3 separate regions of the Homo sapiens genome follow, and regions 2 and 3 are each linked to region 1. Evidence: fine-mapped expression QTL. A gene starts in region 1. Each other region holds a variant in brackets. All regions are shown on one strand. Distances are from middle to middle.

Region 1 (10,536 bases):
TAATAAAAAACTTGACATTACCCATATTTACCATTTTCTTCAGTGTTATTTCAACCAAATCTTTAATTCCTTCATCAGGGTCTTCCTCAGATGGCTGTTTGAGAAGGCTGTTCTTCAACATGTGAAACATTTCCTCCTTTGAAATGAATCCGTCACCATTCAAATCAAACACTTCAAAGCAATCTTTTTAAGAAAATAACAAATCATGAATTTGATGCTATCAGTAAGGTAATATTTTCTCTGATAAACTTTTCAGGGCCAAGTTCTATCTTGATGCTGTACCCACAGGTCTTAGTGCAGCCTGATTTGCATTGTAAGTGTCAACGTATACTAGGATATATACAATAATCCTTAGAAAATATTTCCTGATTCTCAATTATGAAAAAGCATACCAAGGAACAGTAACTTGAATATCTTCACCTTGAAACTCTTGGAAAACTGATTGAAATATGGCTCATAAGCAGAGTTCATCAGAATTAATTGAGAGTTAATTAAGAATAAGAACACTTGAATCAATATTCTCTAGTTTTATGGTTACAATTCAAGTAATGAAATCTGTCAAATGCTTAACATATAAATGTATATGTACATAATTAGCATATGTAGTAATGCCTATGGTGTCTTCCTTCGCATAAATTACTCCTCAGAATCACTTGAGTTTTCTTTTTATTAACTTTCTTTCATATTTTATTGACTTGAATTCATTCCATAAAATAGGTTAGTGGGATTCAAACCAACTAACCAGCCAACCAACAAACCCACTTTACTGTCTTGGTTGAAAGACACTGATTTAAGTGCTTTAGATATGTTATTCATAATGTACGAACCAATAGGACAACCTGCAATCTTACATTTCATTTTTTCTTCCAAAGATCCTCGAAGAAACAGTGATAATCCATGAATCCACTCCAATACATTTACACAGCCATCATTATCTTTATCAAAACCTCGGAATACTAAAGGGAGAGAGGTTAAATGGAACACCTGTCCTGCATAATAACTCTCAGTAAAGTATCTACATTGGCATCACTCACTTTTAAAATTAAGAGAACACTTCAGCTTGTGAAGTCCAATATTCTCATTTGACGAAAGAGGAAACTAAGACATCATAATATCATGAAACTCTTTTATTAAACATTCAATTTTTAAAATGTTTTTGTGGGAACAAATACAATTCTCAATGTCTAAGTATATTAATCATTATTTAATAATAAATATGTTGCTATAAAATATGTTGGTCATATTAGATAAATATATGAATATAAATAAAATACTTAATAGTTTTGTTACTCAAGTCATTACTTGATGCATAGAATTATATCTTGTCACTGAAATATCTTCTATGATGTAAAGAATGTAAATGTCCTTTTAAAACTATTCTATTTATTATGTTTATTAAGTGGAAATCGAAATGTTTTAGGTTTTCTGATATAAGGTAAGAGAAAGATGTCAACATGACTTTGTCTTCTTCTTAAATACACAAAATAAAGCCAATATTACCTCCTTTTCTATGATCTTCTCAAAATTAAATTTGTATATTCCAATGACACTGGGAATGCAAAACACTAAGCTTCCTACCAAGAGGATGTCCAAGCACCAAACCCTTTTTTTTTCAGTTATGGCTGGATTTGGCTAATTTGAATCTTGTGTGTCTCTTACCTCTGTCCATAATCATGTCATCTGTCATTCCAAATGTCACATGCAGGATGTTTCGAAATGCATTACGATCCAGTCCAACAACCAGACCTTGCCTCTCTACTCCTCCCACCAAGTCATAAAAAAGCTTTATAAGACAGTTCACTTCAAATTTATTAACTGAAATAATAAAATAGATATAACAAAAATGAACCCTTAATCTTTAAGTTCTAACTTAAATTTTGCAATAAGTTTACAGACAAACAACGTCAAAGACATCAAATAGGTAATTGTCAATAGAAGACTCTCCTGTTTTGAGATTCATGAACCCTTAACTTAATAGAAATAAAAAAAGCAGCATACCCTCCAAACAGGAATTCCCATGTTTAGGGAAAAAAATACGATAGTATTAGCCAAGTTACTAGAATAATGATGGTGGTGTCGGATTCTAAACTCTACAAGGCTAGTAGAAATACGTCTCAAAATAAGAATGGTAAGACTAAAGAATGGTAACTTTTTCTCAGTATTTTTACCATGGCATTTACGAGATTTACAACTTCTTTTCCCTGGAAATAGATGTCAGATTCATGAGAATTAGGTAACAATTTTCATTTCAGTTTAGCCTTCATTAATTCATAAGCCAGATTTTGGAAACTAGAGTCACCAGTTTTCCAATAAAAAAGCTTTAAAGCATATTTTAGCACCCAATATGGCTCTTCTTGAGGATTACGTAAAAATTAACATGCAACTATTCAGTAATAGTTTGGAGGAAGGAAATTTTTATTTAAAGGATATACACACAAACAGATACTTGCTCATACACATTATTGTATAAAGGACCATGGTTATAAATACCGAGTTAATTATTTGTGTTCCAATCCCCATTTGAGAATGTAGGTGGAAGGGTTATTGCCTGGTCTTGATAATATAAAAGCTCAAATACCAAGTATGGGCGGAAGTTGGGGAAAATTTATTTTGAAACCAGTCAAAACTGTGATTGAGCATTTTAACAAACAAGGACAAAACCTGTGTGTGTATAACAGAAGACAGCATCTAGGAATGGAAAAATCACACCTCATCCTAGAGGTCAGTACAGGCATTTGTGGGATTTCTGGTTTGGAAAACCACATTTAAAGAGAAACACTAAAAAGTCTGGGAAAAAAGATTCAGCAAATAAATAGTAGGAAACAATATAATGGTTATGATTTCAAAAACAGCTGTTAGTCACTGTGGAAAACAGTATGATAGCTCCTCATAAAAATTAAACACAATTATTGCGTGATCCAGGAATTCTACTTCTATTTACATACTCAGAAGAACTGAAAGCAGGAACCTGTACAACAATGTTCATAGTGTCATCATTCACAACAGTCAAAAGACAGATGCAAGAGTCCATCAATGGAGGAATGGATAGACAAAATGTGGTGTATTCATACAATGAAATATCATTCAGCCTTAAAAAGGAAGAAAATTCTGACACATAGATGAACATTTATGGATATTGCACTTAGTCAAATAAGCCAGACACAAAAGGACACATATTGTATGATTCCTCTTATATAAGGTACTTAGTCAGATTTATAGAGACAAAGTAGAATGATAGTTGCCAGGGACTAGGATGAGGAGGGAATGGTGAGTTAACATTTAATGGGTAGAGTTTCCACTGGGAACAATGAACAAGTTACGGAGGTGGATGGTGGTGTTGCAAGCAGAACAGTGTGAATGTACTTAATGCCATGAAATTAAGCACTTAAAATGGTTAAAATAGTAAATTTCATGTTATATGTAACCACATACACACACACACACAAACCTCCTAAAAAGCAAGAGCTGTTAGTTGTTGCGGAAGAAAAGCCTGCATGAAGAATGATGTACTCTGTTCATGTACATAAAATGGTAGCAGAGGGGATGTTGGTTAGCCATTTTTCCATCTCAGCTGAAATAAAAATTTTTAAAAACTAGTTTAATTTATTACCCAAAGGATCAAAGGTTAGCCATAAGAAAACTTTTATTGCTAAACATTTCTTAAATTCTAGAATACAATACTAAATGAAACAAGAAAATTCAAGAATAGGTTTTCATCTTCTTGGAATGCTGTGAATGTGTCCTGCAGAACATATCTGTAGAACAGTGCATGAACTAGATGTTCTCTTAAGATCTTTCACTCTTCTTTGATTCTACAAAATTTATCCATTGAATCTTGATAGCTTTATTGTCTTGCAACTAAAACAAAATTTAACTTTAGGGGAAAGTTCTTCCGTTAAAGAAAATTTAAAATTATTATAATGTCCATGACGTATAACTATTTCTATAGACTTTAACTAATAATCATCTAAGTTTGTAAGACTCATTGAAAATTTTTTAGTAAACAAAAAAATCAAGAGCAGACTTTTTCCTGCCATATTTTTACTTACCTTTAAAAATATACACTCACCTTTTGATTGTTCACAGAATGATTGTCTGCAATGCATTCAAACTTACCGAACAGAGACTAAATCAAATTCAAACTTACGGAAAGGGACAAAATCAGTATTGTGTATAGCAGCTATTGCATTGTTTTTGAATATTTATCAAAAATGTTTACTAGATGTTTACTAGAAGAATACCTATTCTCCCAGAAATGAAAGTGTTTTAAGAAAAACAATAACAGAACAAAACCCTCATCAGAGTATAGTAGTCATAATAATATCTTAAATTACAGGATTTTTTTCCTAAACATTTTAAGATGCGTACACACACCATAATATTCATTTATATCACCATCCACTAAGAGAGCATTTCTTACCAGGTATTAAATCAGATACTAATGATAATTAGAATGCACTAGATCTTACAATCTCTAAAACTACATCAACATGTTTATTCCTTCTTTTTTGAGCGACTCGGTTATTTGGGGGATTGTTGCTTCTGTTTCTTCAAGTGGCCAGTAGTTTTGCAATTAGCACACACAACTTCTAAGTTTGCTCGACAGGAAATTATCTTCCTCATCTAAACCATACCCACGGCTTCCTTGCTAAAGTGCAATTATGTTTTTCAGTCTGAATATAAACTCAAAGTTTCCTATGAAATTCTAGGACCACCCTTTCAAATGCGAGATTAGAGCAGGTGCCTTCAAATAGGGCTCATCTTGTCACCTGCAAAGTCTCCTTTATCTTTCAACACCAGGGGCCACTGGAAAGTGGGAGTCTAAAGTTGGGAACCCATTCTTTACCACGTGTTTAGTTGTGCTGAACTCTGGTTTCCAAACAAATATTGTTCTGAGGCACAGATGAGATGACACAACTCATCTCTCCGAAAGATGTTGAGAAGTTGAGCACCGTTTTCTCCTATGGGTCTCTTGGTAAGCTTCCAGAACTTGGACCTGCGGGTGTATGTGCGAGCTATAAAGCAGGGTGAGTGCACGGTCTACCTTGGTGGTGCTACTTTTCTTGAGACCAGTTGGTTTTAGCATTTATTTTACACCTCATTGAGGCTAACATCACATGTTTCTATCAGGTAAAAGAAGAGGGTTGGAGAAGCAAGTAAATGCATGTGTGGGAGTGTAGGTAGCACCAGAGGCGGAGGCCTGGGTTCCTAAGATCAAACGCAAGGAGCTGGCACCCCGGGATTCCCTCTCTGACTTCTGCTTAAGGGGCCGGGGTGGAGGGGCGGTAGGTAGCCCACAGAGTCCCAGCAGGCGGGAAGCAGGCACAACAGCGGACCTTAGCACGGGGTGGGACCCAGGCTCGGTCCAGGAGCCTCGGCCTGTCCAGCACTACATTCTTACTTACAATGCTTGCAATTTTTGGTTAAGGTGTCCGTCAGCTTCTGCAGTTTCTTGCGGTTCATGTCTGGCGCTCAGAGAATCGGGCCGCGGCGGGGGTCTCTGGGCGCGCGGCTACCGAGACCCTCGCGGGACCCCCGCGAGCCCTGGTGCTGGGTCAACGCGGTGAGGTCTCAGTTACTGATCTCGTGCGCGGCCCTAACAGACGGTGTAGCCAAGGCAACGGCTCAGCCCGCCGCGGATTGGCTCCCAGGCTGCCCGCGACGTAGCCAAAGCTACAGCTGGGCCCCGCCCATCGGCTCAGCGACTGCTCGCGCTGGGTTCTCGGTGCGCGGTGCCGCCGGCAGGGTCCCAGCTGGCCGCCTTGAGGGCTGTATTCTGACTGTTGACGTTGGAGTTTAAATGTTCAGTTGTTGCTGGCTTTTGAGTTCGCAGCCTCTTTGCTTGATTGCAGTGTAAATCATTAAAATCTGAAATGTGGTGTGCACGCTGTATGAGAGGTGTTTCGGGTCGTGAGCGTCACGCCTCAAGGGAAGGCCCAAGATCTTGGACATCTTGGGGGCTGGAGCAGCGTCACAAAATAGCAAGGTGCTGTCCAGAGGACGATCTTGCCGGGCCTCCCGTCAGAGGGCTAGAAGCTTGCTCTTTGGGCGGAGCCACTGCTTAGGTTTTCAGTCTTGGTGAGGTAACAGGAGGCAGTCTGTCACCTGAGGTCTTCGAGCTTTTAGTTGTGTTTCTGAGAGCAAGGGGAAATTGGAATACAGCCACGGGTTGCCTAAGGAGCGGGACGCGTTCCGAGGTCACTAGGAGATTTCATCACTGTGTGCACATCACGGTGCACCGACACAAACCTAGATGGCCTTGCCTACTGCACGCCAGGCTGTATGGTACAACCCATTGCTTCTGGGCTGCACCCCTGCACAGCAGGTCACAGCGCGGAATGCTGCAGGCAGCTAAAACAGAGTGCTAAGCACTCTGGGGAAGGTGCAGTGTTCCAGTACAGTGTTACATCTTATGGGACCACTGTCCTAATGTTGTCTGATGTTGACTTAAATGGCGCTATGTGGCTTGTGACTGTAGTTTTTTTCTTTTCCCACTGCCCTCATCTCACTTCCAAAAGATGGAGGTTGTCTGTGGAATCTGAGGAAAGCCACGAGGAATTTTTATACTGCTTAAATAGGCATTCCCCCCAATGAAAACGGGCTGACAACACCACTTGGGTGTGGGGTACAGCCCAATCTTGCTTTTCCGGAAAATATCTCAGCAACCTTGGTCCTTTACTTATTTGAAAGACAAGTTCTGTGCCGGCAGACAAAGGATATTCCTTACATCTTCAGGGTGGGAGGACTTTCTGCTTTTCCTGATCACAGAGGGGATATCCTCTTTCAGCTAAGGCAGCAATAAAAAGGGGTGGCTCAGCCAGGATCACCAAATCTACAGTATTCTCCAGAGTGCCTGCTCGTTTAACTTCAGAGGGGAAAATGACAAACTATGTTATTGTACACATACTGGCATTTTTAGACTGAAGGCAGAAAAATTCTACTAACCATGAGTAATAATCCCAAATGAAATAATTCCAATGTCGAGGCCTCTGGTTTTTCTTTACTGTTTCATTTGTTTGTGGAATGAAGGATTGGGATGCTGTTTGAAACTAGAGCAAAGGGTGCTTGGTAAAGGCATGGACTGTGTTATCCTAAAGCAAATGTCCTAACAACAGTTACCCGATATGAATTGATGGTGATTATGAGTTTGTAACAGTAGTATTTTTAAATAGTGTTTCTACATATCCCCTTGTCTAGAAGAGTGAAATTCCTGAGACCATAGAGAACAAAAGGGAAAGACTGGACATATTTGAATTATACTTACCTGTGACACCTTATTGATTTCTGTTGGATCACAGAGCTGTAGCAAATACTTAATTCCTAGAGATTGCTGCACTGCTCACTTCAAGAGACAAGGAACCGAAAGAGTGGTTGTCAGTAATTACTAAGAGACGCTGTGGGCTCCCCACCTGATGTACTAGGCCTGTGTTGGGGAGCAGGCCTGCGCTGTTGGTGAGCACATTGGTGGTTATTTCTGGTGGCCTGGGGAGATCGCATACACCGGGTGCTTGCTATAGGTAAGCTAATTAGTTATTCCTTCACGAGTTTAAGGCCTAGAGCCCATCAGCCATGTTCCCTTAAAGTTAAAAAAATAATAAAAAGATGTAGGGGCAATATCACAGATTGTTGAAATTAAAATATGCCGGGCCAAAACTCCTTAACCTGTTGAGCAAACTTTGTAAGTCACCTCCTCCTCTTCCACTTCTTTTATCCTCCAGTTCTTTCTTCCATGCAGTTCTTTTAGCCAAAAAAATCAACCAATCTATCTATCTATCTATCTATCTATCTATCTATCTATCTATCATCTATCTATCTATCTTTCTATCTATCTATGCAAATGCATTGTTTTGTGAATCTCACTTATCTAAGAGAGTGATTTGCAGAGTTGACCTTACAATAAGGTCTTATCATCTTTTTCAGGGAAAGCACAATGTTTATTTGGAGTATGTTTTGTCAACATACGGGTAAACTTCAGAGCTTTCATTACATTCTTGTGAAGTTTTGGAACTTAATATTTTTAGACTTTAGAAACAAGTTGCAGGCCTGATTGAGTCAGTGAATAACATTTCAAAGCAAGTTGAAGTTTCTATTTGTAGTTTTAGTTGCTTATGCTGAGTAGACACAGGACTGCTTTCCCCCAAGAGCTTTCTCAGAGTAAGGCAATTAAGCCTAAGAGGCTACTTCATATTAAATCAATCAATAATGGAATAATAAAGGATTGTGTTTAATTCGTATTGGACATAAATTTTACTGTGCATGAAATGATCATAGAACTTTCCAAAAATCCAAGCAACCTCAAGATGAATAACTTTGTAAACACAGAAGTACATTAAAGTGACTATTAATGCTATGTTTCCTTTAGTTTTGTGTGCAAAACAATCTTCCCTTTGACTCAGCATTCACTGGATTGTTGCCATGATAAACAGCTTGGACCTTGACTTGATGAAATTGTTTTCCTTAATGTGGACCTTTTATGATGAAGGCCTTTGGAAACTGTTGAGGAAATGACATCATAGAATTGATCTCCAAGTATATCACAAATCTATTATAAAATTGCTTGAATAAAAGGGAAATAGGTTAGTTACCTGCATAATAGAAATTCAACTTTACTAATTTTATTTTGTGGAGACAGCGATAACAAAAATAAGAGTTATATGTGTGACCAGTTGTTTGGGTGGTCGAATCTCCAAATCTCTACCACTTGTCACTCTCCCCTTTGCTGTAGGGTTGTGGTGACAAGCTAGAGTCTCAGTATTCAGACCCACAGAACACTGTCTTATGCACAACTTCTGCATATTTTTCACCCCAACCACTCCCAGTGGCAACTCTTCAAAGAGCTCTTTCTGACACCCTACGTGAAGTGAAGTGAACCCTTCTCCACCCAGCCATTCTCTTCCTTGATACTATTTTTTTAGCACTTGCTACTGTGTGAAACAATTGTTTTTTTCTAACCTCTCCTTCCCACCAGACTAAATCACATGATCTCTCTCTCTCTCTCCATATATTTAAGTCTATTTCACTCGCTGTATCTCTGCATTTGTTTGTTTATCATCTGTCTGTACCTCTGAAATTTGACCACATGGTCCATGTTGTGTGGTCTGTATTGATGGAAAGTGGTAGGAGAACCACTCCAGCAGGAATGAACCCCAGGTTTCCCTGCAGCACCCTGGGGCTGAGTCCCTGGTACAGTAACCACAATGGAGCCTTTAAAGGGAGCTGGGCAATATAGAAGAGCTTTCATTTAAACTGACCTTTCTCCAAAATTCACACTTGATATTCACTGGTGTTGACGTATTTCTAGACTTTTTTTTTTTTTTTTTTTTTTACTGTAATCAAGTGACCAGCCAGTAAGACAAATGCCTAAGGTTTACTAAGGATAGGATTCTTGTATCTCAACATGTAATTTATAAAGTTGTAAATTAAGATGTGGCCTGTGACAGTTAATTATTATGATAGCCATAATGTCAGCAGGTCTGAAGTTTTCGGTAAAGAATCTGGCTCTTTGAGACCTGGCAGAGCTGACCAAGAAATCCTGCTGAATGTGCTGGGCTTGATCCCCTCAGCACTGGGTCATGCGCCACTGTAGCCAGAGTCATGGCAACTGTACTACCTGCAAAGCTGCCTCAGAGACAGAAGATACCCACACCTTTTTCTTACCAAGCCCAGGGCATCTTGCAACATTTGAGCCCTAACCAGGGAATTCATGAGCATCACTAAGCACAGAACAGGACCTGACCTACCCAGAGACCCCACCAGGCAATGCCTGGTCCTCTTAGCCAATGTCAACCAGAAAATAACTGGTATCACTTCTGATACTTGCCACCATTGTTTAAACCACTTCCCCCAACTCCATAGTTCTTGCTCCCTAAATGAAAAGGAAGCACCCAAGATCGCCTACCTTGAATCATGTTACCCCTTTAGTAGACTCTGTTTATTAGCCTGCACTCTCTAACCCCTTTCACTCATATCCAACAAAACTCATTTCAACTGTGAATGTTTACCTTACCAGATCCATCTTTGCACAAAGCCAACTCTCCACCTTTCTTCCCTGAACCTGCTACTCCCCTGAAAATATTGCTTGTCCTGTAGATATTCTCCAGAAAAAACTACCCATTTCCTCAAATCTACTCACTCATAGCCAGAAGAAAGTCAAAATCATCTGGACTGTCATCAACTTTCCATGATCTTATGAGCTCTATCCATTCTTCTCTACACTTCTTAGAAAGTGCAAGTGCTGCTCCCCCCTCCAGTGCTGCACCTCTTGCTTTGTTCATCCTTTATGCTCCTGCCTGTTTCCTGAATTTGCCTGCTGTCTTCCATCTTGTGCTCCTCAAAACTGCCTGCTGGATTGCCAAAGTGATCCGACCATTTCTTCCTCCTGCTTAACATTGAAAGGCCTTCCCAGTGCCAGCAAGATGGAGTCCAGACCCAGTAGCATGGTTTCCATGGTTTTCCAATATGTGGCATCTGCCAGGCTTGAATGCCTCTTCTCTGACCAGTCCCTGTTTTTAAAGGCTGGAGCCCTAGCAGCCCTGT
Region 2 (10,536 bases), 64 kb after region 1:
CGGTGTTTGGTTTTTTGTTCTTGTGATAGTTTACTGAGAATGATGATTTCCAATTTCATCCATGTCCTTACAAAGGACATGAACTCATCATTTTTTATGGCTGCATAGTATTCCATGGTGTATATGTGCCACATTTTCTTAATCCAGTCTATCATTGTTGGACATTTGGGTTGGTTCCAAGTCTTTGCTATTGTGAATAGTGCCGCAATAAACATACGAGTCCATGTGTCTTTATAGCAGCATGATTTGTAGTCCTTTGGGTATATACCCAGTAATGGGATGGCTGGGTCAAATGGTATTTCTAGTTCTAGATCCCTGAGGAATCGCCACACTGACTTCCACAATGGTTGAACTAGTTTACAGTCCCACCAACAGTGTAAAAGTGTTCCTATTTCTCCACATCCTCTCCAGCACCTGTTGTTTCCTGACTTTTTAATGATCTCCATTCTAACTGGTGTGAGATGGTATCTCATTGTGGTTTTGATTTGCATTTCTCTGATGGCCAGTGATGATGAGCATTTTTTCATGTGTTTTTTGGCTGCATAAATGTCTTCTTTTGAGAAGTGTCTGTTCATGTCCTTCGCCCACTTTTTGATGGGGTTGTTTGTTTTTTTCTTGTAAATTTGTTTAAGTTCATTGTAGATTCTGGATATCAGCCCTTTGTCAGATGAGTAGGTTGCAAAAATTTTCTCCCATTCTGTAGGTTGCCTATTCACTCTGATGGTGGTTTCTTTTGCTGTGCAGAAGCTATTTAGTTTAATTAGATCCCATTTGTCAATTTTGTCTTTTGTTGCCATTGCTTTTGGTGTTTTGGACATGAAGTCCTTGCCCATGCCTATGTCCTGAATGGTAATGCCTAGGTTTTCTTCTAGGGTTTTTATGGTTTTAGGTCTAACGTTTAAGTCTTTAATCCATCTTGAATTGATTTTTGTATAAGGTGTAAGGAAGGGATCCAGTTTCAGCTTTCTACATATGGGTAGCCAGTTTTCCCAGCACCATTTATTAAATAGGGAATCCTTTCCCCATTGCTTGTTTTTCTCAGGTTTGTCAAAGATCAGATAGTTATAGACATGCGGCGTTATTTCTGAGGGCTCTGTTCTGTTCCATTGATCTATATCTCTGTTTTGGTACCAGTACCATGCTGTTTTGGTTACTGTAGCCTTGTAGTATAGTTTGAAGTCAGGTAGTGTGATGCCTCCAGCTTTGTTCTTTTGACTTAGGATTGCCTTGGCGACGCGGGCTCTTTTTTGGTTCCATATGAACTTTAAAGTAGTTTTCTCCAATTCTGTGAAGAAAGTCATTGGTAGCTTTATGGCGATGGCATTGAATCTATAAATTACCTTGGGCAGTATGGCCATTTTCACAATATTGATTCTTCCTACCCATGAGCATGGAATGTTCTTCCATTTGTTTGTATCCTCTTTTATTTCCTTGAGCAGTGGTTTGTAGTTCTCCTTGAAGAGGTCCTTCACATCCCTTGTAAGTTGTATTCCTAGGTATTTTATTGTCTTTGAAGCAATTGTGAATGGGAGTTCACTCATGATTTGGCTCTCTCTTTGTCTGTTATTGGTGTATAAGAATGCTTGTGATTTTTGTACATTGATTTTGTATCCTGAGACTTTGCTGAAGTTGCTTATCAGCTTAAGGAGATTTTGGGCTGAGACAATGGGGTTTTCTAGATATACAATCATGTCATCTGCAAACAGGGACAATTTGACTTCCTCTTTTCCTAATTGAATACCCTTTATTTCCTTCTCCTCCCTAATTGCCCTGGCCAGAACTTCCAGCACTATGTTGAATAGGAGTGGTGAGAGAGGGCATCCCTGTCTTGTGCCAGTTTTCAAAGGGAATGCTTCCAGTTTTTGCCCATTCAGTATGATATTGGCTGTGGGTTTGTCATAGATAGCTCTTATTATTTTGAAATACGTCCCATCAATACCTAATTTATTGAGAGTTTTTAGCATGAAGGGTTGTTGAATTTTGTCAAAGGCTTTTTCTGCATCTATTGAGATAATCATGTGGTTTTTGTCTTTGGCTCTGTTTATATGCTGTATTACATTTATTGATTTCCGTATATTGAACCAGCCTTGCATCCCAGGGATGAAGCCCACTTGATCATGGTGGATAAGCTTTTTGATGTGCTGCTGGATTCGTTTTGCCAGTATTTTATTGAGGATTTTTGCATCAATGTTCATCAAGGATATTGGTCTAAAATTCTCTTTTTTTGTTGTGTCTCTGCCTGGCTTTGGTATCAGAATGATGCTGGCCTCATAAAATGAGTTAGGGAGGATTCCCTCTTTTTCTATTGATTGGAATAGTTTCAGAAGGAATGGTACCAGTTCCTCCTTGTACCTCTGGTAGAATTCGGCTGTGAATCCATCTGGTCCTGGACTCTTTTTGGTTGGTAAACTATTGATTATTGCCACAATTTCAGCTCCTGTTATTGGTCTATTCAGAGATTCAATTTCTTCCTGGTTTAGTCTTGGGAGAGTGTATGTGTCGAGGAATTTATCCATTTCTTCTAGATTTTCTAGTTTATTTGCGTAGAGGTGTTTGTAGTATTCTCTGATGGTAGTTTGTATTTCTGTGGGATCGGTGGTGATATCCCCTTTATCATTTTTTATTGTGTCTATTTGATTCTTCTCTCTTTTTTTCTTTATTAGTCTTGCTAGCAGTCTATCAATTTTGTTGATCCTTTCAAAAAACCATCTCCTGGATTCATTAACTTTTTTGAAGGGTTTTTTGTGTCTCTATTTCCTTCAGTTCTGCTCTGATTTTAGTTATTTCTTGCCTTCTGCTAGCTTTTGAATGTGTTTGCTCTTGCTTTTCTAGTTCTTTTAATTGTGGTGTTAGGGTGTCAATTTTGGATCTTTCCTGCTTTCTCTTGTGGGCATTTAGTACTATAAATTTCCCTCTACACACTGCTTTGAATGCGTCCCAGAGATTCTGGTATGTTGTGTCTTTGTTCTCATTGGTTTCAAAGAACATCTTTATTTCTGCCTTCATTTCGTTATGTATCCAGTATTCATTCAGGAGCAGGTTGTTCAGTTTCTATGTAATTGAGCGGTTTTGAGTGAGATTCTTAATCCTGAGTTCTAGTTTGATTGCACTGTGGTCTGAGAGATAGTTTGTTATAATCTCTGTTCTTTTACATTTGCTGAGGAGAGCTTTACTTCCAACTATGTGGTCAATTTTGGAATAGGTGTGGTGCTGAAAAAAATGTATATTCTGTTGATTTGGGGTGGAGAGTTCTGTAGATGTCTATTAGGTCCGCTTGGTGCAGAGCTGAGTTCAATTCCTCGGTATCCTTGTTGACTTTCTGTCTCGTTGATCTGTCTAATGTTGACAGTGGGGTGTTAAAGTCTTCCATTATTAATGTGTGGGAGTCTAAGTCTCTTTGTAGGTCACTCAGGACTTGCTTTATGAATCTGGGTGCTCCTGTATTGGGTGCATATATATTTAGGATAGTTAGCTCTTCTTGTTGAATTGATCCCTTTACCATTATGTAATGGCCTTCTTTGTCTCTTTTGATATTTGTTGGTTTAAAGTCTGTTTTTTCAGAGACTAGGATTGCAACCCCTGCCTTTTTTTGTTTTCCATTTGCTTGGTAGATCTTCCTCCATCCTTTTATTTTGAGCCTATGTGTGTCTCTGCACGTGAGATGGGTTTCCTGAATACAGCACACTGATGGGTCTTGACTCTTTATCCAGTTTGCCAGTCTGTGTCTTTTAATTGGAGCATTTAGTCCATTTACATTTAAAGTTAATACTGTTATGTGTGAATTTGATCCTGTCATTATGATGTTAGCTGGTGATTTTGCTCGTTAGTTGATGCAGTTTCTTCCTAGTCTCGATGGTCTTTACATTTTGGCATGATTTTGCAGCAGCTGGTACCGGTTGTTCCTTTCCATGTTTAGCGCTTCCTTCGGAGCTCTTTTAGGGCAGGCATGGTGGTGACAAAATCTGTCAGCATTTGCTTGTCTGTAAAGGATTTTATTTCTCCTTCACTTATGAAGCTTAGTTTGGCTGGATATGAAATTCTGGGTTGAAAATTCTTTTCTTTAAGAATGTTGAATATTGGCCCCCACTCTCTTCTGGCTTGTAGGGTTTCTGCCGAGAGATCTGCTGTTAGTCTGATGGGCTTCCCTTTGAGGGTAACCCGACCTTTCTCTCTGGCTGCCCTTAACATTTTTTCCTTCATTTCAACTTTGGTGAATCTGAAAATTATGTGTCTTGGAGTTGCTCTTCTCGAGGAGTATCTTTGTGGCGTTCTCTGTATTTCCTGAATCTGAACGTTGGCCTGCCTTGCTAGATTGGGGAAGTTCTCCTGGATAATATCCTGCAGCATGTTTTCCAACTTGGTTCCATTCTCCCCATCACTTTCAGGTACACCAATCAGACGTAGATTTGGTCTTTTCACGTAGTCCCATATTTCTTGGAGGCTTTGCTCATTTCTTTTTATTCTTTTTTCTCTAAACTTCCCTTCTCGCTTCATTTCATTTATTTCATCTTCCATTACTGATACCCTTTGTTCCAGTTGATCGCATCGGCTCCTGAGGCTTCTGCATTCTTCACGTTGTTCTCGAGCCTTGGTTTTCAGCTCCATCAGCTCCTTAAAGCACTTCTCTGTATTGGTTATTCTAGTTATACATTCTTCTAAATTTTTTTCAAAGTTTTCAACTTCTTTGCCTTCGGTTTGAATGTCCTCCCGTAGCTCAGAGTAATTTGATCGTCTGAAGCCTTCTTCTCTCAGCTCGTCAAAGTCATTCTCCATCCAGCTTTGTTCCGTTGCTGGTGAGGAACTGCGTTCCTTTGGAGGAGGAGAGGCGCTCTGCGTTTTAGAGTTTCCAGTTTTTCTGTTCTGTTTTTTCCCCATCTTTGTGGTTTTATCTACTTTTGGTCTTTGATGATGGTGATGTACAGATGCGTTTTTGGTGTGGATGTCCTTTCTGTTTGTTAGTTTTCCTTCTAACAGACAGGACCCTCAGCTGCAGGTCTGTTGGAATACCCTGCCGTGTGAGGTGTCAGTGTGCCCCTGCTGGGGGGTGCCTCCCAGTTAGGCTGCTCGGTGGGCAGGGGTCAGGGACCCACTTGAGGAGGCAGTCTGTGCGTTCTCAGATCTCCAGCTGCATGCTGGGAGAACCACTGCTCTCTTCAAAGCTGTCAGACAGGGACATTTAAGTCTGCAGAGGTTACTGCTGTCTTTTTGTTTGTCTGTGCCCTGCCCCCAGAGGTGGAGCCTACAGAGGCAGGCAGACCTCCGTGAGCTGTGGTGGGCTCCACCCAGTTCGAGCTTCCCGGCTGCTTTGTTTACCTAAGCAAGCCTGGGCAATGGCAGGCGCCCCTCCCCCAGCCTCACTGCTGCCTTGCAGTTTGATCTCAGACTGCTGTGCTAGCAATCAGTGAGACTCCGTGGGCGTGGGACCCTCCGAGCCAGGTACGGGATATAATCTCGTGGTGCGCCGTTTTTTAAGCCAGTCCGAAAAGCGCAATATTCGGGTGGGAGTGACCCGATTTTCCAGGTGCGTCTGTCACCCCTTTCTTTGACTCAGAAAGGGAACTCCCTGACCCCTTGCGCTTCCCAAGTGAGGCAATGCCTCGCCCTGCTTCGGCTCGTGCACGGTGCACGCACCCACTGACCTGCGCCCAGTCTGGCACTCCGTAGTGAGATGAACCCGGTACCTCAGATGGAAATGCAGAAATCAC[T/C]CGTCTTCTGCATCGCTCATGCTGGGAGCTGTAGACTGGAGCTGTTCCTATTCGGCCATCTTGGCTCCTCCCCCCATGCTGAGCAGTTCTATTACTTCAGAGATCCCACCTTTCTTATTAATTCACTTTATTTTTTTACAACACCTTTGGATTAATGAAGAAATTAAGCAGATAGCACAGAGACTTCCCATATGCCTCTCCCGCTCCCATATAGAATTTCTTTTACTGTTAGCATCTTATGTAGCTGTGGTTTATTTGTCACAAATTAATGATAAATTATGATTTATCACAATATTGATAAATTATGATTTATCACAATATTGATAAATTATGTAACACAAGTCCATACTATATCCAGGTTTCTTGGGCTTTTACCTACTGCCCCTTTTCTGTTCCAGGATCCTGTCTACAAGGGTACACTAGGTACACTCTACCTTTAGTGAGCATGTCTTCTTGGGCTGCTTTTGATTGACTATTTCTCAAACTCCCTTCTCTCTAGTGACATTTACAGGTTTGAGAAATAATGGACAGTTGTTTTGGCAGATGCCGTCTGATGTTTTTCTCATGATTAGACTGACGTTATGGGTTTTGGGACGAAGATCACAGAGGTAAAATGCCATTTTCATCACATCATATCAAGGGTACATACTATCAATAAGATATATCACTTTAAATGTTGGCCTTGAGCTGGGCGCGGTGGCTCACACCTGTAATCCCAGCACTTTGGGAGCCTGAAGCGGGTGGATCACCTGAGGTCAGGAGTTCTAGACCGTCCTGGCCAATGTGGTGAAACCCTGTCTCTACTAAAAATACAAAAAATTAGCTGGGTATGGTAGCCTGTGCCTGTAATCCCAGCTATTCAGGGGGCTGAGGCATGAGAATCACTTGAACCTGGGAGACGGAGGTTGCAGTGAGCTGGGATCACACCACTGCTCTCCAACTTGGGCAACAGAGCAAGACTCCGTCTCAAAGAAAAAAAAAGATGTTGACCTTGGTCACCTGTTGAAATAGTGTTTGTCAGGCACCACTCCTTTTCAACATCATAGTAGAAGTCCTAGCTAGTGCAGTAAGACAAGAAAAGGAAATAAAAGATGTATAGATGGAGAAAGAAGAAATAAAGCCATCTTTGTTTACAGAAGACATGATCATCTATGTAGAAAATCCCAAAGAATCGACAACCAAAAACCCTTTTAGAACTAATAAGCGATTATAGAAAGTTTGCAGGATACAAGGTTAGGATCCAAATGTTAATTGTTTCTCTATATACTGGGAATGAATGATTGGAATTTGAAATTAAGAACTCAATATCCTTTATATTAGGACCTCAACAAATTAAATAGTTAGGTATAAATCTCACAAAATATGTACAGCATCTTATGAGGAAAATTAGAAAAATCTGGTAAAAGAAATAAAAAAATAAAAAATAGAGAAGTATTTTATGTTCATGTATAGGAAGGCTCAATATTGGCAAGATGTCACTTCTTTTTAAATCCTACAATCAAAATCCCAGTATTTTGTGGATATTGACAAACTGATTCTAAGTTGATATGGAGAGGCAAAAGATCCAGAATAGCCAACACAATATTGAAGAAGAACAAAATTGAAAGACTGGCACTACCTGACCTCGAGACTTACTTTAAAACTTCAGTAATCAAGATATCAAGATATCATGGTATTATTGGAAAGAATGGACAAATTAATGAAACAGAATAGAAAAACCCAGAAATAGACCCACATAAATATAGTCAGCTCAACTTTGACACAGGAGCAAAGGCAACACAATGAATCAATGATAATCTTTTGAACAAACGGTGCTGGAACAATTGGATATTTACTGGCAATCAAGCAATCAATAAATCCAGACACAGACTTTTTTGACATTTGTCAACATCTATAGAATGCAATTTCAAGAGTGAACCTTAAGGCTAACTATGGACTTCGGGGATACTGATGTGTCATTGTAGGTTCATGATTTGTAACAAATGTGCCACTCTGTTGGAGGATGGTGATTGTATGATAGGCTGTTATATGCTCTTGTTCTACAATAAATCCTAGTCAATTGCCTAGATAATGCCATCTGTAGATGGTATTTCAACTCTGAAAACATCCAGTAAATGGGACTCATGACTTACTGAGACACCGTATTCTATCCTTGACCCATTCTAAAGTTTTAGAAAGTTTCTATGTGTATATGGTTTCCTTTGGTTTGCCCACTTAATCAAAACAGAGCAAAGAATACCCCTCCTTCACATGAAAGTCCTTCAAATGGCTCAGATAAAGATCATGTTATATCTCACTTCTCTCTGTCCCAAGTCTTCTATTTTCCAGCTAAAATCAAACACCCAAAACACCAACAAACTTATCTTCTGGTTCTTTCTACTGTTCCTCTTATGGAGTGATTTCAAATTCTGCCCCCATCTGATCTCAAACCCCAATTACCTCCATTTGGAAGTGCCCTAATCTCAATTCACCCTCTTGGCCCATGTCCAGACACTGCATTTATATCAACTTGACCCAAGACCACACTACTGTTTTGTTACACTCATACAATAGCTTTCGTTTAATAACTATTTATTGAGCAGCTACTTTACTGAGAGATGTTCAAAATGGGAGTCAAGGCCTCAAACCAGGCAGAGGTTTTAGGGATCCCATAAGGTGTTTTCCACAATGTATTAGGAAGAAAATGGTAACAAATGTCCTAATAACACAAAGGACAGAAGGATCACATTGGCCAGGAAGACACAAAAAGTTTTATGATGTAAAAGGCTTTTTGAATCAATCTTGATGAGTGGATATGACTTGGAAATATCCAAGGAGGAGGTACATGGCTAAATTGATTGATATTTAATTTCCATTCAACCATTAACATATTTTACCAAGAGCTGAAGCTGGGCCTTGTGTCCCTATGTACATATTAGCAACATTGTTTTCTGTTTTTTCTCTTAACTTTTAACCAAATGTAAAGCATTTTAAATCTCTATTAAGATTTAAAGATTTAATGAAGCCCACCAGTCTAGACACTTGGGGTGTTTTGGTGTCCTCATCTTGCTATCCAGCCTGCTACATTCCCTACCCAGCTTCCGGTCACCCAGCAATTTAATACGTTTTCTTTCCACTCCTTCCTCCAGATGGTTAAGGAAAAGAGTGGCCAAGCCTGAGCTGAAAACAGGCCTGAACTCACACTGGAAGCTGCCCTCCACAGTACCCTTGATCACATTTATCACTCGTTGTCTCCTGCATTCTTCAACCCACATGCCAAAGGACAGAAGGAGACCCCGATAGACGCCTTCTTGGAATCCTGTTTGCCATGTATCCCTGATTTGCCAGCTGGACAACAAAGGAAATCAGGCTTGTTGGCATAGCTCCTTATTCTTTGTAAACCTCTGGTGACTTGAGTGATCACTGTCTCCTTTCTAAGCACTTGCACAGCATCCTTGGATTCTTGCCTAAGTTCTGCAGCAGGATTTCATGTCTGTAGTCAAACTGGACACTCACTTCCCACGTTCCTGCTCTTGGTGTCATCTTTCTAGTCTCCTCCCCTGTCTACAGGCAGTCATGATGACCCACAGTGGAGCAGTGGTCCTGGCCACCCATTCGTTCAACAAGTGTAGACAGTTTATCTATTTGGGTATATAATTTATTTTGGCCAAGAGGCTCAAACTACTATTGAGAAAAGTTAGAAGCAAATCACATTTTTCTTATGGTCTTGTTGGGCTTAAATTTCCTCTTAACAATATTTGTTTTGCCCGTTCTGTCCAAAATGATTTAGTTTGATGGGGAAGACTGAATTAACATAAAAATTGAGTTTTGGTTTCTGTTTATCATTCATCAGCCTTTCCCTCACTGACCTCTGGCAGGAGATCTATCTTTTCAGTTCCCTTTGATTCTATGAGGACAGCGTATGATAGTTTAAGTGGGTAAGAACATGGCTTTGAAGTGTGCACCTGGACTAGATGACCGCTGCCCTGGAGCGGGGGACCAGGCTTTTCCAGGTTTCTATCTTCTGCCCTAAAAAGTGTGGCTTATGATGCTGTCCCATCAAGTCACTATATAAATTAGAAGAAATTAGAAGTCTGTCTCTCATAGGCACTCTCTAAGTGCCAATTCATAAGCTGTTTTTTTATTCAGGTATTTGTTTAAGTTTACAAGTTTTGTTCCCTTGGTGTTTTCACATCTTTAACATGAATATTGCATGCTATGTCACTCTGTTGCATGGATCCTTGCTCACATCTCATCTTTCCATTTGTGGGCATGCTTTTCCTTAAATGCAAAGGATCAATTAAGACAACATGAATACATAGCATAGTGTTTAGTTAAAAAAAAAAGTCAGATACAAAATAACAAATTTGTGGGATTTCATTTATAGAATGTCCATAAGCAAGCAAAATGAAGTGTAATATTTAGATGCATACTTATGTATGAGAATTATTCATACCAGCAGGTGAGTGACCCTCACCACTCACAAGTAAGGTCCTTCAGAGGAGAGGGAGGGTGGAGGCCTGGCAGTTTACAGGGGCCTGGGAGTGGTTAGACTCAGGCGGTGAACATGGTGTGATGATGTTATGGTGACTCAGTATGCCATCTATCCATATTGTATGGATGTTTGTTTATTCGTCTTGTGCTTCAAAATAATTTGCTTTAAAAAAGGTTACATAAAGCTAATTTAAATATATATAACATGTGAAGATGGGAGGAATAAGCATATTTTATTACAAACTTAGAAAATGCTCATTAAGCTCGATTAGATTTTACTGTTATTTTAAAGTAAGAAGGACCAAACAAATGATGAGTATCTTTGCTCTGCCTTGAAGTAATCTTTATCATTGAAGCT
Region 3 (10,536 bases), 37 kb after region 1:
AGGATGGGGTGAGAAGGTGCCATCTGTGAGCCAGGAAGCAGGTCCTCGCCGGACTCCGAGTCGGCCAGTGCCTTGATCTTGGCCTCCCCAGCCTCCAGAACTGTGATCAGTTAAAAGTCTGGTGTTCATAAGCCACTCACTATATGTTTTTTTGTTACAGCAGTCTGAATGGACTAAGACAAAACTTGGTACCAAGGAGTGGGCTGCTGCTATAACAAGTACCCAAAAATGTGGAGGTGGTTTTGGAACTGAGTAATGGGTAACAGCTCTAAGAGTTTTGAAGTTCGTGTTAGAAAACACCTACTATAGACTCTGCAGTATCAAAATGATAATAAAGGTATAAAATGAACAATTTTACACTCACACACGCACACACACACATACACATTTTACAATGTAGATGTAAAGGACCAGTTTCTTGAAAAAAAAAATCACTACAATTCACTTATTATAAGATATGTAATTGGAATAGCCCTTTAAATATTAAGAAAATTTAATTTGTAATTAAACCTCTACTCCTTTCCAGAAATCTTGAGGCAGAGGGTTTCCATGGAGAATGCTATCCAACCTTTAAAGAAGAATTAGTATAAATTTTAAACTACCTATTCCAGAAAATAGGAGAGGAAAAGACCCTACCCAATTCATCATACTGAAATCACAATCAGATGAAACAAAACAACAGCAACTGTAGACCACTATCCTCCTTAAATATTGACTCAAAAATCCTAACAAAATATCAGCAAATCAAAATAAGAAATGTATAAAATGAATTATATACCATAACCTAGTGTGGAGGCTAGGCTGTTCAATATTCAAAAACTGACCAAAGTTATATGCCCTATTAACAGGCTAAGAAGAAAAATCACACGATCATGTGCATAGATTCAGAAAAAGCATTTGATAAAACTTAACACTCATTCAGGATAAAAACTCTCAGAAAAATAGGAATACAGGAACACTTTGAAAATCTCACATAAAGATCATCTACAAAAATGCTACAGTTGACATACTAGTGGTGGAAGACAGCTTGCTTTCCCTTGGGACTGGGAAGAAGCCTAGCATGTCTGCTCTCACTGCTCTAATCCTGCATAGCAGTGGAAGGTATAGTCACTGAAATAAGGCAGGAAAAGACAATCAAAGGCATGTATACCAGAAAGGAAAAAATTCACAATTCTTCCTCTTTACAGATGGCAGGATTGTCTCCTTAGAAAAAACAAGGAATCTACAAAAAAACTCTTAGAACTAAGTGAATTCAAGTTCACAGGATGCAAAATCAACATACAAAAATCAACTATATTTCTCTATACTAATAATATCTCTTCATACTAATATTTCTTTGTACTACCACGTGGACTACAAAATTAAAGATACAAAACTACAAAAATACACACAAAACATGCACTGTGTAGAGAAACCTACAAAACACTGATGCAAGAAGTCAAAGAAGATCTAAATAAATTGAGAGACATACCATGTTTATGAATTGAAAGACTCAACAAAGTAAAGGTGCCAACTCTACCCAAATTGATATACACGTACACAATTCCTATCAAAATCTTAGTGAGATTTTTTGTAGATATAGACAATATTATTCTAAAATGTATATAGAAAAATAAAATAAATATAATAGCTGAAACAAGGTTATAACTCTCAAAACCCAAAAGCAATGAAGACCCCCCAAAATTATTAGAAATGGCAAAAGTCATGAATAGAAATTTCACTGGATAGAATATGTGGATGGCAAATCAGCACATGAGAAGCTGTTCTCAACACTATTGGCCAATGAGGGAATGTAAATTAAAACCACAGGAGAGAGATCATTCTACACATATAAGAATGGTTAAAATAAAAAATACCGGCAACATCAAATGCTGATGAGGATGCAGAGAAACTGGGTCTCATATATGACAGGTAGGAATGTAAAATGGCACATCTACTTTTGCAAATAGCTGGGCAATTTCTTAAAAAACTAAGCACTCAACTATCATACCAACAAGAAATTACAATCCTGGGCATTTATCCCAGAGAAGTGAAAATTTATTTTCATTTCACCCAAAAACCTGTAGCCAAATGTTCATGGCAGATTTATTTGTAATAACCCCAAACTGGAAACAGCCCAAATATTTTTCAGCAAGTGAATGGTTAAAGAAACCATGGTACATCTACACCGTGGAATTGTACTCAGCAATAAAAAGGAATGAACTATTCATGCAAGCAACAACTTACATGAATATCCAGAGAAATATATAAAACAAAGAAAAAGCCAATCCCAAAAGGTTACACACTGCGTGATTCCATTTATTCAATGTTATTGAACTGACAAAATTATATTGATGGAGAGCAGCTTAGTGCTTGCCAGGGATTAAGGATGGGAGCAGTGGGGAGGGACATGGATCCTATTAAAAAATGAAATAGGAGGCATGGTTGTGGTGATGGAAGTGCTCAGAATCTTGATTGTATCAACATCCACATCCTGGTGGCATTGTACCATAGCTTTGCAAGACATGAATGCTGGAGAAACTGGACAAATATGTGTGAGATTTGCCTGTATTATTTCTTGTAACTGCATCTGAATTTACACTTACTTCAAAATAAATATTTTCATTTAATTTAAAAAATGATTTTCTGACCAAGTGCAAATCCTTCAAGCCCTGCTTTATGGGGAATGCCTGGAACTCCCATGCCAGGTGCTGCGGGGTCCTTCACTGATGACAGCTGTCTCTTGGTGCTGGGGATGGAGACTCCTGCTTGATGTGACTGTGACCTCATAATAGTGCTCCATATCTTTAACAACAAAAGGTCTGAATTGGGGGCTCTTTGTTTTGACAGTTTTGGAGCCTGGGGTTGGGAGGGAATGAGGAACAGTTCTATACATACCTGAATGAACTGTGCGTCTGGTGCTCTCGGAGTAGATTCCATGCTGTTGAATGAAGTTTTTATGGTTCTTAGAACAGTTGTGACCACTCCTCTTGACGTCTCCTCCCCACATTCACATTTAAGTGCTTATTGAATCATTTAGGGTGCTTTTTCTGGCAAAGATAATAGAAACCTTGCTTGAATACTCATATAACAAGAATTTTGGAGGTAAGGCACATAGACAGTGCAGATGCATTATCAAGATGCAGGTCCTTTCCTTCTGTCTGCACTGCCATTCTTAGTATTCAGGTGACAACATTCATCCCCAGTTGTCAACTCCAGGCACAACTCCCCAGGCAGGTGAGGGAGCATGCATCTTGCCTTGTCTCTCTCCTGTATCTGGAGGCTGGCCCTAGCAGAGGGTGCCTCATCCTCCCATTGCCCAGAATTGGGTGACATGCCCATTCCTGACTAGACCACCTCTGCCTAGATGGGTGGATGTATGCAGTGTGTCCTGTGAGGAAGACAGGGGAGGTGTTCCTGCTAAGGTAGCCTCATGGCACATTGTACCCTGCTGTGTACCAGCTATGTGTTAGGTGCATTACATTTGGTTCTGCAACAACTTTACACACTAAGTAGTGGAGGGTCCAGCAACACAAAGGGGAGTGTCATTCATGGTGGTTGAGGCACACATGTCACTACACATCAGAGGACAGGGCTGCAAGAGGAGGAGACTTTGAAAACAGAACTACCTTCACTCTCATTAAACCCCTCATTCTCAACAGTGGTTATTTTGTGGGTTTGTACTGTCTAGATACCTTTTTTATTGTATTAACTTGTGTGCTTATTAATTATTTTTAGACAAAAAGCAAACTTTTCAGCCAATGTGACTCCTGGCTCAGCCACTTTCACATCTGGGCTCATCTTTGTGAATGAACTTGTGAATAGTTCGGGCAGAATTGTTGGAAATGCAGAGGGTGTCTTGGAATGAGCATCACGTCCCGGCTGATGTTACCCATTTGAGCATATGCCATGCTGACTTTCTATTTCTCTTCTGGGTACCAGCCACGTGTGGTTTTCAATTCTGTCTTTGGGTGATCCGTCTTTCATGTTTACAGATGGGCGAACTGACCATCCGTGGATTCCTACACAAGAGTTCCTTGATGGGCAAATAGGTAATTATTTACAAGTATGATCACAGATTTCTCAAAGCAGTGTGCCAAGCTACAAGACTCCTTTCTGTAGGAGAAAAAGGAAACTTGTAGGAATAGGAGAAGTGGAAAAAACCATTTCCTGACACCAGCATTTGTAATTAAGCAGAATATTCCATGTTGTTGCAACCAGGATTCCAAGCATTACCTGTTTCAGAGACCCCCAAGGAGTTGCTAGTTGGTTTGTTTGTACATGGTGTGTGGTAGGCACTCAACAAGTGTTTGCTGGTCAACTTTTGGTGGGTCTGGCATTTCTCTTATAGCACCTAGCTATTATAAGGATTCAGAAGGGCAGATACTGCAGATTAATGATGATTTAAAAGCAGCAAAACCCAAAGCTAACCCAGTTTTTCCTTATTATGCTCTTCAAAGCAGTTTTGGTTTGGCTTCAGCATCCCTTAGGGAAGGGGTTTGGATCCAGTCATATTTTATCTGTAATGATTCCCCATCTTAGGTTTGTAGGCAGTGCCTCCAGTCCCTATGGGTATCTCTGCCAGTCTAAACTAAATAGTGCCGATTGTATATTGAAAACATGCACTGGATTTTACAAACCAAGAGAAGCAAGAGAGAGATTTTTAAATTCTCATCAATGCATAAATACATTTAGATTTTTAAAAATAAATAGAATATTTGTCAAGGATCCACCTTAGCTAAGTCAGCATTCACACACTTGTGTGTGTGTGTGCATGCTCCTGTTCCTGTCCATGAGGAAGTGGAGGAAGGGATGGCCCTGAAGACTCTCTGTGATTGGCTTCAGTCACCATTCTGTCTAATTGTTCATTAAAATATCATAGCGCTACCCATAGGGTGAATACCTACATAAATTTCACAGTAGTTTCTTTTTGAAATCTTTCAAACAAGAAAAAGTTGTTTAAGGGCTAAGCCATGTTGCTCAGCAATATTATGTGTTTACATAATTTTATTTATTTTCTTTATTTCACAGCTCCTAGGACTTCAGGCATTAGGATTAATTCATAAGAAAGCTCACTGTGTTTCTCTGAAGTTTATTTTATGGTAGGAGAATATTTTCAATAAATTATGAACTCTGTGAAATGTATATGTAGTTGATGGACATTGAGTATATTTTCACTCTCATTGGATAGTTCTTCTGTCAAAACTTATTTCTTGTCTGAAAGCTACCAATCGGGCAACATTATCGGTACTACCATCTTCCTTACTCTTCACCCCTCCTCCTTAAGTAACAAATGGCTGTCTTTCATCCTTTGCTCTATTAGTTCTAATCAATACCCTAATTATGTAAATGATACTCAGCAGTGTTATCAGAAAGCGACTTGTTAGAGGAAAATTGTTAAGGCATAGATACACAAGGAAAGACAAAATAAACGCTTCAGAATTTTATACAAAGAAACCTTTCTATTCAAATAACAGAGAAAGTAATTTGAACAGCAGGGAGAGTGACAGAAGTTGGGGAAGGGGGCAGAAGATACATACATGTATATATCAGAGAAAAAGAAGGCATAAGAGACATGGGAAAATCCATATATGTATGTATATATATAGGTATATATACATACATATATACACACACACATTATTTTAAAAGATGCTTATAGAATCCATATATTACATTTGTGAATGTCTTTAAAGATTTGAAAAATAACTTTTAGTGAATCTAGAGAATGATGGCTGGGCATGGTGGCTCAGGCCTGTAATCCCAGCACTTTGGGAGGCCAAGGTGGGTGGATCACCTGAGGTCAGGAGTTCGACACCTGCCTGGTCAACATGGTGAAACCCCGTCTGTACTAAAAAAAAAAAAAATTAGCCAGGCGTGGTGGCAGGTGCCTGTAATCCCAGCTACTGGGGAGGCTGAGGCAGGAGACTCGCTTGAACCCGGGAGGCAGAGGTTGTAGTGAGCCGAGATCGCGCCATTACACTCTAGCCTGGGCAACAAGAGGGAAACTCCATCT[C/CA]AAAAAAAAAAAAAAAAAAAGAAAGAAAAAAAAAGAAAGAAAATAATAGTTCAATTTTACAATAAGAAAAGTGTGCTATAACATAGGTTAAATAAAGTCGCACATGAAGTGTACCTACCCTTATTGAACCTCTTCATGGGTTCCATCTCCTAGCATCATGATTTCGTTATGTTTGCCACCTGCTGTGTAGAATAGCAGATTGTTATTTTGTTCTGCTGTACTGGCATTTAATAAAAAGGCCCATGTTGAATCCATGTAGACTTTCTTTTTTTTATTTTGTTTTTATTTAATTAATTTATTTTTTTTGAGATGGAGTCTCGGTCTGTCGCCCAGGCTGGAGTGCAGTGGCGCCAACTCGGCTCAGGCTCACTGCAAGCTCCGCCTCCCGGGTTCACGCCATTCTCCTGCCTCAGCCTCCCAAGTAGCTGGGACTACAGGCGCCCGCTACCGCGCCCTGCTAATTTTTTTTGTATTTTTAGTAGAGACGGGGTTCACTGTGTTATCCAGGATAGTCTCCATCTCCTGACCTCATGATCCGCCTACCTCTGCCTCCCAAAGTGCTGGGATTACAGGCATGAGCCACCGCACCCGGCCCGAATCCATGTAGAATTTCACACCTGAGTGACCTGTGCTTCAGAGCCTGTCAAAGTCCAGGTGACAGACCTTTGACAACTCACCCCAGGGGAGCTTACCTGCACTTTCTCTGTGGCACTGAAGTGTTTGTCCTGGGACCCTGCCTGCTGGTTTCCAGCAGTGTTTGCGTGGCCTGTTTTTCTGTGGTGACACGCATGGACGTATGATTTATACTTGTGGATCACTCCTGCTGCACAGCAGGTGCTATCCAGCCAGCTGCAGCTCTGCTACTTCTGCTCAGAAGCACGTGGGAACACACTGGAGAGGAGAGTGAGTTTACCACAGGGAGAACTGCATACTTTCTAATTTACAGAACTTGGCGATTCTCTACTACTTAACAAAGTTAACAAATAACTTTTGGCACACCTCACAGAGAGGTGACATGCAGTGACCCTTGATTGCTCTGCCTGCACTGTGGCAAACACGGAACCAGAGCCACTGCGCTGCGGGAAGGCAGAGTTCAAGGGGTGGAGGGCGGGGGTTAGAAAAAGCCCTAGGTGAGCCCTCCCTGCTTCCTCCTGCTTCAGCTGGCCAGGAAGGTGACTGAAGCCATCAAAGCCTCTGTTTCCTCATCTGTAAAGTGGGAATACATGACCCCCAACCTCATTAGACTTTTGTGATTATGCAATGAAATGACCAGCTTAAAGCATTTAGCGTGGTGCCTGGCACAGAGTGAATAGCTGATATACCCTAGCTCTATTATTATAGCTAATCTAGCTATCTCATTTGATTGTCTTCCTGAAGAAATGCTTTCAGTAAGTGATGTTTCATCATAGACATCATAAAACTTTACATTCTCAATGTTTTCAAACTTCTTAGCAACAGGATCTATTACTAACAAACAAGATCATTAGAAAATAAAAAGTATAACATTCAAAGACCATAGCTATGATGAAAAGGACAATTTGTGTAGTATTATTCAATAGTGTCTTGAAAGATGCCATCATTTTTACAGTTGGTGTTTTAAAATATCTTTCTATATACAGAGAAGTCGATTACTCTGAAGATTTTTATGGGACCGGTAGCCTTTGTGTTTCTTCCTGCTATAGCTTTCAGACCATCAGCACATAACATTTTTGCCAACTTATTGATTACGTTTTTAAAATTAGCATAAATTCTTAAAATTCTTTCTTCTTTTGTATCCATGTCAAAAGGTTAGCAAAATAGGATATATTCACGTTTGTCTGCATTTGTCTAAAAATGCCAGAAAAAAGAGATCTGTATATTTGTGCTCTTTTGAACTTTGACGATATCACATAATCTTAAATATCAAACTAACTCAATAGGTATTATAATTTTTTTGGAGTATTCATTTTATTATCAGAAAATGACTATATAGCCCTCTACCAACTACCATACTTATTACAATGTCTAAGTAGAGGCTGTAATAATTTTTTAATAAACTGATGCATTTCTTCCTCGAAGGCTACACAGCAAATTGCTTTGAACAACCTCCCAACTCACTTTAAAAAGGTTTGAATTTTGCATATATTTTCAATAATACTAAGTCATTCATTCCTTGTGTGCATAAAAAAGTTAAAAAATATTTTCTTGTCCTCAATATGTTTTATTTCAAGATGCCCCAGCAGAGACCCCAGAACTATTCTGCAAACGTTTATTGTAGAGGTTGCTTTGAGGTCTTGGGTGTTTTCCATCCCATAGTTGGATATGTTTTGCCATCCTTTCTTGTCACTGACTTCGTTTGAAGGTCAGCATCTACTGTGTCATTTGCATCTTGTCACACAGTGGACAGCAGGTGATGAATTAGCTCATGCAATATGGTTAATTTCATATAAAGCCAATCAATAACATTATATTCATTATTAAAGCTTCTATTAAACATCTTGTTTTTAACCAGAAATTTACTACTAGTTTTAAAGCGAACTATTTCGTACTGTGCAGTTTTCCACCAGAGAAAAAAATACACAGGCTGAAAATTATAACTTTACTTGAATAGATCAATTTATTAGAACATATAAACTGAGATAGGCACCTGGTTCCATTGAGATAAGCAAGGGTTCAAATCCTGGCTCCTTCACTTCTAAGTAGGATATAATGCTTATAGTATTATAACACAGTTTTAAATTTGTGGATTGAATTTACCAGCCCATCCCAAATTTATAGGGTTTAGAATGTCAAATAAAGGCTGACCATTAAAAAAATACATAAAGTTGGAGTGGTTTATTATTAGTAAACAGAGCTTTTTATTTTATGAATAATATAAAATCTCTAAACAGAATTGCTTTTTGTAGATACATTGTCTTAAAACCAGCATTTAAGTTGCTTATATTTTGTGGGTTATTTCCTTTCCATTTTAAGTCTTGAGTCTAAAACGTGAAAAGGGGATTGAACAATAAGGAGACTCCTTCAAAGAACTGATACTCTAGAAGACATCAGCACTTGAGAGAATAGCTTTTAAACAGCAGCTGAAATATGAGGCCTCTCTTTTAGATATCCTAAAAATCATCTTCTTTATCGTGTTTTATCGTGTTTTCTCTTTCTCGGGAAGCTGTGTCCTCTGTGGGCAGAGCCAGGGTCGCAGACATGAGTGGATAGATCAGCGCGGAAAATGCTGGCGTGAGAAGACCTCACTCAGACTTCCCAGGCCCACACTGATGGACACTTTTCATTCCCTTCCGCTTCTTCCATTCTCCCTCTTTTCCCAAGCTCCATGTTAGATACTTTTAATCTTATGTCCTTCTTCTCCAATTCAACAAGTTCCCACTACTGAGGACCTTTTACACTTCTTTCTCTATTGACCTTTGTTTCCTGGACTTGGTAACAAGATTACACTAAGTATCAGAAAGAGTCCAGATGAGTTATTTTGCTATCTTTTATTTAAACACAAACAAGCAAACCAGCATCTCAAAACATAATCTACCCCATTCTCTTGTTATCTCAAAAGTTTGTCTTGGCTGGGCACAGTGGCTCATGCCTGTAATCTCAGTACTTTGGGAGGCCGAGGCAGGTGGATCACTTGAGATCAGGAGTTCGAGACCAGCCTGGCCAACATGGTGAAACCCTGTCTCTACTAAAAACACAAAAATTATTCCGGTGTGGTGGTGTGTGCCTGTAATCCCAGCTACTCGTGAGGCTGAGACAGGAGAATTGTTTGAACCTGGGAGGCAGAGGTTGCAGTGAGCCGAGATCATGCCATTGCACTCTAGCCTGGGTAACAGAGCAAGACTCTATTTCAAAAAGAAAAAAAGTTTGTCTTTTGATATAGTCACTTAATATTGTTGAATTAGTATAATTTTAATTAATAGATTGTTTCTAAAAAACATAGTTCCTTTTGGTGACACATGTGATTATGGGAGATTGCTAGAGGAAATCATCACAGTTTATCTTTAAAATACCATGGGATTTTTTTGGTAACAGTTACGTAATTGCCATCAGGCATGGAATATTTTGGTGGTGCTGAAATGCCTGTGCACTCAGATATACATTTTCTGCTCTGCAGCAGAAGGAATATTGGAAAATGCACATTTAGTTTTGGGGGGACTATGAAATGGAAATTGTGTATAACCGTTTCTCTTATTCAACCACAAAGGGTGTGGAACATTATTTCATAACGATCTGTTTGTTGGGTCCAGAATTCAGTCTCTTTTAAGGGAAACGTAAAATAAAAGCCATCATGCATAATTATAGAGTTGATGTGTTTATTTTTATATAAGGCAATCATTTCAACAAAAATTTTGAGCTGTTTAATAAAATGTGACCACTATTTACTACTACCCCAAGTCTTGACTTCAGGGGCTGTTTACTAGCCAGCTGGTGGTTTTATACACTGGAAGAGTTTGGCGATGTGTCTCATGGCTTCGTTGAAAGGCTCTCCTATGTCACACAGACTTTTCTTAATTTACTCATGCATTCGTGCAATCTTACTGTGGGTGATTATTCTATAACTG

Which allele goes with the higher level. Alleles are on the strand shown, and positions count from the first base shown. SD is a standard deviation of normalised expression in the study named.
In carriers of allele C in region 2, the expression in prefrontal cortex of the gene that starts at base 5,580 in region 1 tends to be higher than with T alone (large effect, 1.1 SD a copy in ROSMAP).
With allele CA in place of C in region 3, the expression in neutrophils of the gene that starts at base 5,580 in region 1 is higher (large effect, 0.90 SD a copy in BLUEPRINT).

Evidence for each region. PIP is the estimated chance that this variant, and not a neighbour inherited with it, causes the effect.
Region 2: its variant is fine-mapped to the expression of CLXN in prefrontal cortex (ROSMAP, PIP 0.95).
Region 3: its variant is fine-mapped to the expression of CLXN in neutrophils (BLUEPRINT, PIP 0.95).

Annotation. Positions count from the first base shown.
Region 1 is chr8:48,729,689-48,740,224 of GRCh38, forward strand. It overlaps CLXN (calaxin), which reads right to left and starts at 5,580. Exons shown (of 6, transcript NM_024593.4): 1 at 5,406-5,580; 2 at 1,660-1,815; 3 at 852-956; 4 at 32-183. The coding sequence starts at 5,463. RefSeq lists an enhancer at 4,985-5,659.
Region 2 is chr8:48,794,152-48,804,687 of GRCh38, forward strand. All of the region lies in intron 2 of LOC105375825 (a long non-coding RNA gene), which reads left to right. Among named protein-coding and RNA genes, the nearest start is that of CLXN, 64 kb to the left of the region's middle. RefSeq lists an enhancer at 4,905-5,467. The variant T/C (reference allele first, on the strand shown) is at 5,706.
Region 3 is chr8:48,767,101-48,777,636 of GRCh38, forward strand. No RefSeq gene overlaps it. Among named protein-coding and RNA genes, the nearest start is that of CLXN, 37 kb to the left of the region's middle. The variant C/CA (reference allele first, on the strand shown) is at 5,996.